Linked DNA regions of Homo sapiens. Changing the gene in region 1 together with any one later gene gives a genetic interaction. Each region holds a gene or a part of one and is shown on either strand. Other genes may lie near its edges. The genes, in order: EIF2AK3 and NF1.

Region 1 (3,500 bases):
CTCTGCGGGTAATATGACCACCATTCATAGCCCTTGAAATGAGGAAAAAGGAAGCCATTTAGCTCATGAAATTGAATTTCATCATGTTTCAAATACTGCCAGAAAATAACATTGCATTCCCAAACTCTAAAATACCATTAAACGATTTTGACTTGGAAGCATGAAGTTATTGTGTATAAGATCTATGGTAATAATCTGCAGCTCTCCAATAAATAACTTTGTACCAGAGGCAATAATAGACTATCCTGCATTAAATGTCATCTTTCTTCCCAACTCCCAACATCTGATGGCAGTTGTTATTTACTGAACCCTATAATAGACAAGCTTTTTGGCTCTCCAGTATCTATCTCCCTGTGCTTCCAGCAGAAGTATCTTGACTTTACTTTGGGAACTTCCTTCTTGCTGACTGTGCAGCAAAACCCCACGGTTAGTGTGGAAGGCATCCATGCTCTAAAAGTTGCTTACGCCAATCCATGGAATCCCATTGCCTGGCTAGGGATTGTTGAGGGATGGGTAGGTGTCCTTGGTTTAAGTAGAATAAAATTTCTGATAGTGGGAAAAAGCAATACTTTTCTCTCCACCCTCTACCCCACCAACTCCAAAAGACTTAAATAGAAACAAGAAATGGGGAGGACAGAAACCAGGTTCTGGCTAAATCACTTGATCTCAGCTAAAGCTTTACCTGAATTCTCAACAGTTTAGCCATGTGGGCCAACAGATTTCCTTTTCTGGTTAAGTCAGTATAAACACTTTTGAGTGCAAAGAAAATAAAATTCAAAATAAATGGTATGACCATCTAGAACATTCAGGCATTGTACTGAGACTATAACAGGTAAAAGAAACAGATATGGTTCATACCCCATAGAAACCACAGAATAAATAATCCAGGTGTGATGAGAATAATGAAGAAGGACCAGGTTTCTGTCAGAACAGTGTATATCAAGAGGAACTGAGAAAAGTTCAGAGTGGAGAAAATAGAAGACTAGAAGTTAGTCTGAAGAGGCAGGAGCCAAAGTCCTGAAGACAAAAATGTGACCAAAATATAACAGGGGGAGAGGGCCTAGAAGGTTTAACATTGAGCTCAAAGATTTAGGTCAGAACGTAGCAAAATGTACAGCTTTTTCACCCAGGAACAAAAATCTTGGCTTTTTTTTTTTTTTTGGTTGGGGGTGGCGCACTAGAAATCTTTAAAAGGAATTGTCTTCTATTTAGAAAGGAATAAAACTTTCTGATTTCTAGAAAAACTAACAGGAATATTAACTTTCTTCTTGCAATTTTTCTGGTGCATAGACAATTACAGAAAAATCTTTAGACAACATTGTAGCATTAAATGGATATTTACCAATATCTCATTTACATTATAAAATTAGCAGAAGAATATTCATTATTAGTGAAAACATGATTCATTGTCTTTCAAGTTGGCATTTGTGTGTACAGCAAGTGTTAAGTACAAGAAGAATGTGTATTTCAGCTAGCTGTTTCCCACCTAGTGATAAGCGTTTACTATATTCAAACCTAACTGCTAGTATTCTCTCAAATTAGGGGTGTGTGGTCTCCTGTAAACTGTCTTCTCCAATCCAACCAAATAATTCATCTCTGAACTTTTCATTCAGTGCAGAACAATTCTTGGCAATCAGTTTGGGCCCACGTCAAAATCACTGAAGCATAATGATTTATATGACTAAATAACAATTATATTAAAAAATAAGAATTATTTCTAATTCCTATTCTTGTTACCCTAAAACTCTTAAAATATACCCAAGAATTTGAAAACCTACTGCTGATTTTAGAAGAAAATAACTTGTGTCCAAATAGCTACTTTTGTGCCTGAAACAAGTCTGTTTTAAGTCTGAAAAGACTTAAAATGGATCCACATCTATCAAGACTTTAAGCTACTTTCATCAGAAAAGTATTTATACATTCACTCCACATCTACTGGTGATGGCTAAGAGTATATGGAATGTGGGAAATTAGTTAAATAAAAGTTCCATGTACTTATTTTTAGAAACACTACTACGGAAATGTCATGTTTTAGTAAGACTCTTTAATAATTTTGCATATTATATTACTGCAAAATTCACTACTGAATATATTGAAAATAGAATCCAAGGTTTTAGAGCTGTAAACAGTCATCTGTTAACTATTTGCTACCTTTCCCCATTCGGCTTCTTACCCCTTCCCCCAAAGTCTAAACAGTTCAGAAAAAGAAGCAAAAGTGTGGAGATTTGCCCCAATTCAAGCTGGCTAATGAAGGAACCCATGTCTCTCCTTCCATTCGGATCCCTTTCACCATGCTGCTTCAGAGCCCTGGAGGTATTGGTGTCAGGGTTACTCAAAACCATAGAAAAACAAAAACAAACAAACAAACAAAAAAACAGGCTATATCTGCTCATGGTGGATTTTACCTAAAGATTCTTTTTTCTTTTTTTTCCCTCACCTGGACTACTGAGAATACCTTTTACAGTAAAATGAACACAAACACATTACTGAAGACAATGAATGCATGGTTTGCCTAAAGTTTTCAGACATAAGACTTCTTATTCTTGCAGCAGGCCCCTTCGAGGCTACTTTCTCAGACCTCTGCTCTCAGATGCTTTTACTCTCCCCAACTCTTAAGGATCCTTCAGAGTACTGCAAGTACTGCTCTGAATCACAAAACGTCAGATTGAAACCCCAAGGGTGATGCTCCACAAATACAGACCTTGAGGTCCCTGTGCATCAGTCCTTTACTGTGAAGAAACTCCACTGCCTCTGCGATCTGCAGGAAGATGTGCAGACACACGCTCCTCTCTCTCTCCTCTATGGTACATCGTCCATTCATCCAGTCTTTGAGGTTTTCTTTTCTGCACAGCTGCATTTGAATGTAAAGATACACCTTTGGTGAACTGGGCTGGAGTTTTTCTGTGGTGTTTTTAGTGAGATCTAAACTTAAAGTGGTTGGTCTTGGAGGAGAAATAGACAATGTAGCTTCAGAAGAAGATTTGCTACTGGTGGGCTTGAAAGCAGTTAGTTTATTAGCACAATGGTTGCCAATATGCAATCGATTAGTTTTCGGCTCTTCTTTACTGGAAGCATTATCACAGCCAGAATCTTCAAATACTATTGAAGAGGAGGTTCTCTCCCTTGACCTTACATAAGGAGAAGCTTCAGAAGGACAAAGTTCAAAGGAGTGCCCCTCATCATTGCCATCCATAGTCCCATCTTCCACATCACAGTCTGTAAGGCAACTGTCCTGGAGGTTGTATGCTGCATCCACTGACTCACTGATGTCCTCATGGTCCATTCCTGAGAATTCCAGTGGTGAGAACTGGCTCTCAGATGAACTTGTCTGGTCACAGGAAATCCCTACTGAAAAAGACCTGCTTCTTTGTGGTGAAGGAGCTATGATTTCAATATGTTCTTTTGTAGCGAAAGGATCCATTCTGCGTATTTTAACTGATGGTGCATCCATTGGGCTAGGAGAGCTGAGTGGCCAGTCTGTGCTAAAAGTGGGAGAAATA
Region 2 (3,500 bases), on another chromosome or scaffold:
ATAACTCTCACAGTAAAACCCACTAATACTTGAAGGTCATTCTTTTTTTACCTTGTAAGACATTTTACATCATCATCTGCTGCTTGGTTTGATGTTCCCATAACCCAGTCTGTCAGGTATTCTACCATCTTATTCCTATAGAATGGTGGAGAAAAGAGAAACAGCAAACAATGTTTTTGAAGCCACACACACACCTTTAGTCACGTAAGATTTCTTATAGTGCAAATAATTTGCCAGATAACCTAAGTGACATGACGACTTTATAAAAGAGATACTGCTATCACAGACATAAAAGCCAGAAGGGAACAAGCAACATGGATATTTATCCTCCATCATGGCCCTTAGTTATGGTATCAGATTGGAAATAGAATCAAATTCTTAGCTCAAGTATAGCACAGTTTTAGAAAAAGGGAGCATTGTCACAGGCACAAAGCTTAGGGAAATTTGAGAAGAGATGTAGAGAAAAACAAACATGTAAATTGCTCTCTTTTCATGTCCTCCTTTCTACCAATAACCGCATATCTACTCTTTTTCTGTACTTCATTGGACATATTAAGATTTACAAGACCCTACATTGCTCTTTTGAGAACTCACCTAAATTTCATCTCTTGGCAAAATGAGAGGTCATCTCTCCTTGCCATCATTACTTCAACTAATTGACACAGTTTCGTTTTTATTTGAATTGCATGGACCATATTCCCAAGCACACGAACATACCTATATAGACATAGAAACAATAAAAAAATTATCAGATATAGACAAAAGAGAAGGCATTCTAAATACTTTAGTCATCAAGTAAAACGAATTAAATGTAAGTTTGAAAACAATAAGATATTTATTTAGAAAAGAACGTACACAACTTCTGGCTACCTTACTGTCACACCCTAGTTTGTGTGCAGTAAAGAATGGCCAGTTATTTTATCAATTACTACCAGTATCAGTGTGTAAGAGGTTTTTCTTATCTCTTAAAATGTTTCTGCTACATTTCAGTAGAATGCTTACCTGACCAGATTTAACATCATTGTTTCAATGCTAGCTTGCCCTAGATGTTCAGAGCTGCCTTCAGTATGATTATCTAGCAAGTTCTTCATTATAGCTATGGTTTGTTCTACAAATTGAGTATTGGTATCAGTCAATAAAACCTAAAGAAAGAACAAATACATTAATGATTTGCCATCAATGCCCAGAAGACAGACCCCCTAGAGAGATGAAACTGACTGATCTAAACACACAGAGTAAGTGCACCCACAGGCATAGAGCCAAATAAGCATACAGATATACGCAGACACTCGTACCCATACACAGGGCACGTATACCCTTAGGCACACATACACACCAGAGTTCCTAAGAGGCAAGCTGACCCCTACATTGAGATGACTCTTCTTTCTGCAATTTTTTGGAAATTTTTAAAAACTGTGAGTACCTAATTTAAATAATCTGAAAGAAAAAGGCTTATTTCAAACAAGTCACTCTATTCATAGAGAAAGGTGAAAAATAAGAGAACACTTTACCTGTCCTTGGGAGTCAAAAAACTTGCTGATGGTATTCTTCAATTTGTTAAATAGCATTGGATACAGAGCAGGACTCAATTCTAGACCCACCAGATCCTTAACATTGGTCCGTATTTGAAGTCCCACTTTCTCATGGTTACACACCATTAAGGACAACAGCCGATCCATAAATTTGCTGACAGGTGTATCTGCGTTTCCCTCTGAAGACATCACTGAAATCATAGAACCCTTACGTTCACTGACTGGACCCATGGGTGGGCTATAGGTTGCCAGGCCAGAATTGCTTCTCTGCTGGAGGCACACTCCCCCAAGGGCACAAAGGAAGCCAGTCATGTTGATCCATTCCTGTAGGGAGTCTGTGTCAGACAAATCTATGGATCCTCCTCCACTCACATGGGACATTCGCCTCTTAACAATGGTCTTGTGAAGGCTTTCAGCAGCCTAAACACAAAATTTTTGTGCAAAGCATGAATTAAACCTTAATTAGTTGAGACTTGACAAATTATGCTTTATCCAACATTTCTTCCATGACAAAAGTACAAAAAATGTAAAATATACATTAAAATCAACCCATAAAATTACCATATACATTTTTAAAGAGCCACTGATCTATTTTTATCATACACTAATATAATCAGCCGAGTGTCAAATTTCTTTTAAAAAGTTTTGATTTCACATGGATGAACCTTGGAAACATCATGCTAAGTGAAAGAAGCTAATCACAAAAGCCCACATATTCTATAATTCCATTTACAGAATATATCCGGAATAGGCAAATCTACAAAGACAGAAAGTAGATTCATGGTTGCCTAGGGCTAGAGACGTTGGGGGAAGAGAGGCAAGAAAGTGGGTGGGGGGTGGTTAGAGGCAGAGATAGCTAAAGGGTACGGGGTTTTTTTCTCAATTGATGAAATTGTTCTAAAACTTGATTGTGGTGATGGTTGCACAACTCTGTGAATACATTAAAAACAGTCACTGAATTGGACACTTTAAATGGGTGAACTGTATGGTATGTAATTATATAAAACAGTTATCCCCCCAAAAGCTTTCATTCTAAAGCTACATGTCCCCTCCAAATAAAGGTATTAGGTACACACATTTGCTTCGTAAAAATATAACTTTTTCCTATTGTAATTAAGCATGACAAAAACACCATGGAGGAACAACCAGTTTTTATAAATCACCTAATAATGAGAGCAATATGAACATTACAAATCAAATACACACAAACACTAACTGATCATTAATTTCCAAAGTAACAGATAATATAGTCAATAGTAATAGTTGAATGAACTGTCCACATTTTAAAATTTCATTTACTCTATGGGATCAATCTACTGCCTAAGACATTCCTTAATTAGAATACCTAACAAAATAGCAAAATGAATTGTTTCCATGTTAATTTATCTCTACCTCTGTTGCTCCTTTTCTGAAAATTCTGTGAAACACCCTGATGAAGGGAGAAAGAGCAAGAAAAGGTAAAGAAATGGTCTCTGCAACAAACAGTCTCTAGCAGTGCTGCCCAGTATTTCTGTGATGACAGGAACATTTTCTCTCTCTGCTGTCCAATAGAGTAAGTAATTGTCATATGTGGCTACTGGTACTTGCGATGTGGTTACTATATGATTGAGGAACTAAATTTTATTTAATTTTAATTATGTTAAAATTTAAGTTAAATAGTCACACATAGCTAGTAGCTACCACATTACAAAGTACAGGTCTAGATAAACCACAACTAAATATCAGTCTTCACACAGCTATATGTTTACTTTACTGAGCGACTCTTGAAAGATTATCAAAGTGAAGTACATATATTTAGCAGATCAGTTAACAGACAAAAGTCAACTTTACAGACTTACCTGGCCATCTTCCATTTTGGCTTTTGGATAGTTAAGGATTAGCTTTGTTGCTTGTTCCCATTTTGCATGTGTATCTTCCCAAGCCTAAAATGAAGGCAATTATCACTTGAAAGCAACTTAGTCTAGAGCT

What was found.
Region 2: changes in EIF2AK3 (region 1) and NF1 together harm fitness more than expected from each alone (negative genetic interaction), as found in Homo sapiens cells (one large-scale study listed by BioGRID).

Annotation. Positions count from the first base shown.
Region 1 is NC_000002.12:88,571,965-88,575,464, forward strand, and holds part of EIF2AK3 (eukaryotic translation initiation factor 2-alpha kinase 3 isoform 1 precursor), read right to left. Parts: exon of another isoform or gene 3,483-3,500; coding exon 2,702-3,482; exon of another isoform or gene 2,550-2,701; intron 1-2,549. UniProt on the Homo sapiens protein: Metabolic-stress sensing protein kinase that phosphorylates the alpha subunit of eukaryotic translation initiation factor 2 (EIF2S1/eIF-2-alpha) in response to various stress, such as unfolded protein response (UPR).
Region 2 is NC_000017.11:31,227,477-31,230,976, reverse strand, and holds part of NF1 (neurofibromin), read right to left. Parts: intron 3,455-3,500; coding exon 3,371-3,454; intron 1,953-3,370; coding exon 1,512-1,952; intron 1,143-1,511; coding exon 1,003-1,142; intron 718-1,002; coding exon 595-717; intron 136-594; coding exon 52-135; intron 1-51. UniProt on the Homo sapiens protein: Stimulates the GTPase activity of Ras. NF1 shows greater affinity for Ras GAP, but lower specific activity. May be a regulator of Ras activity.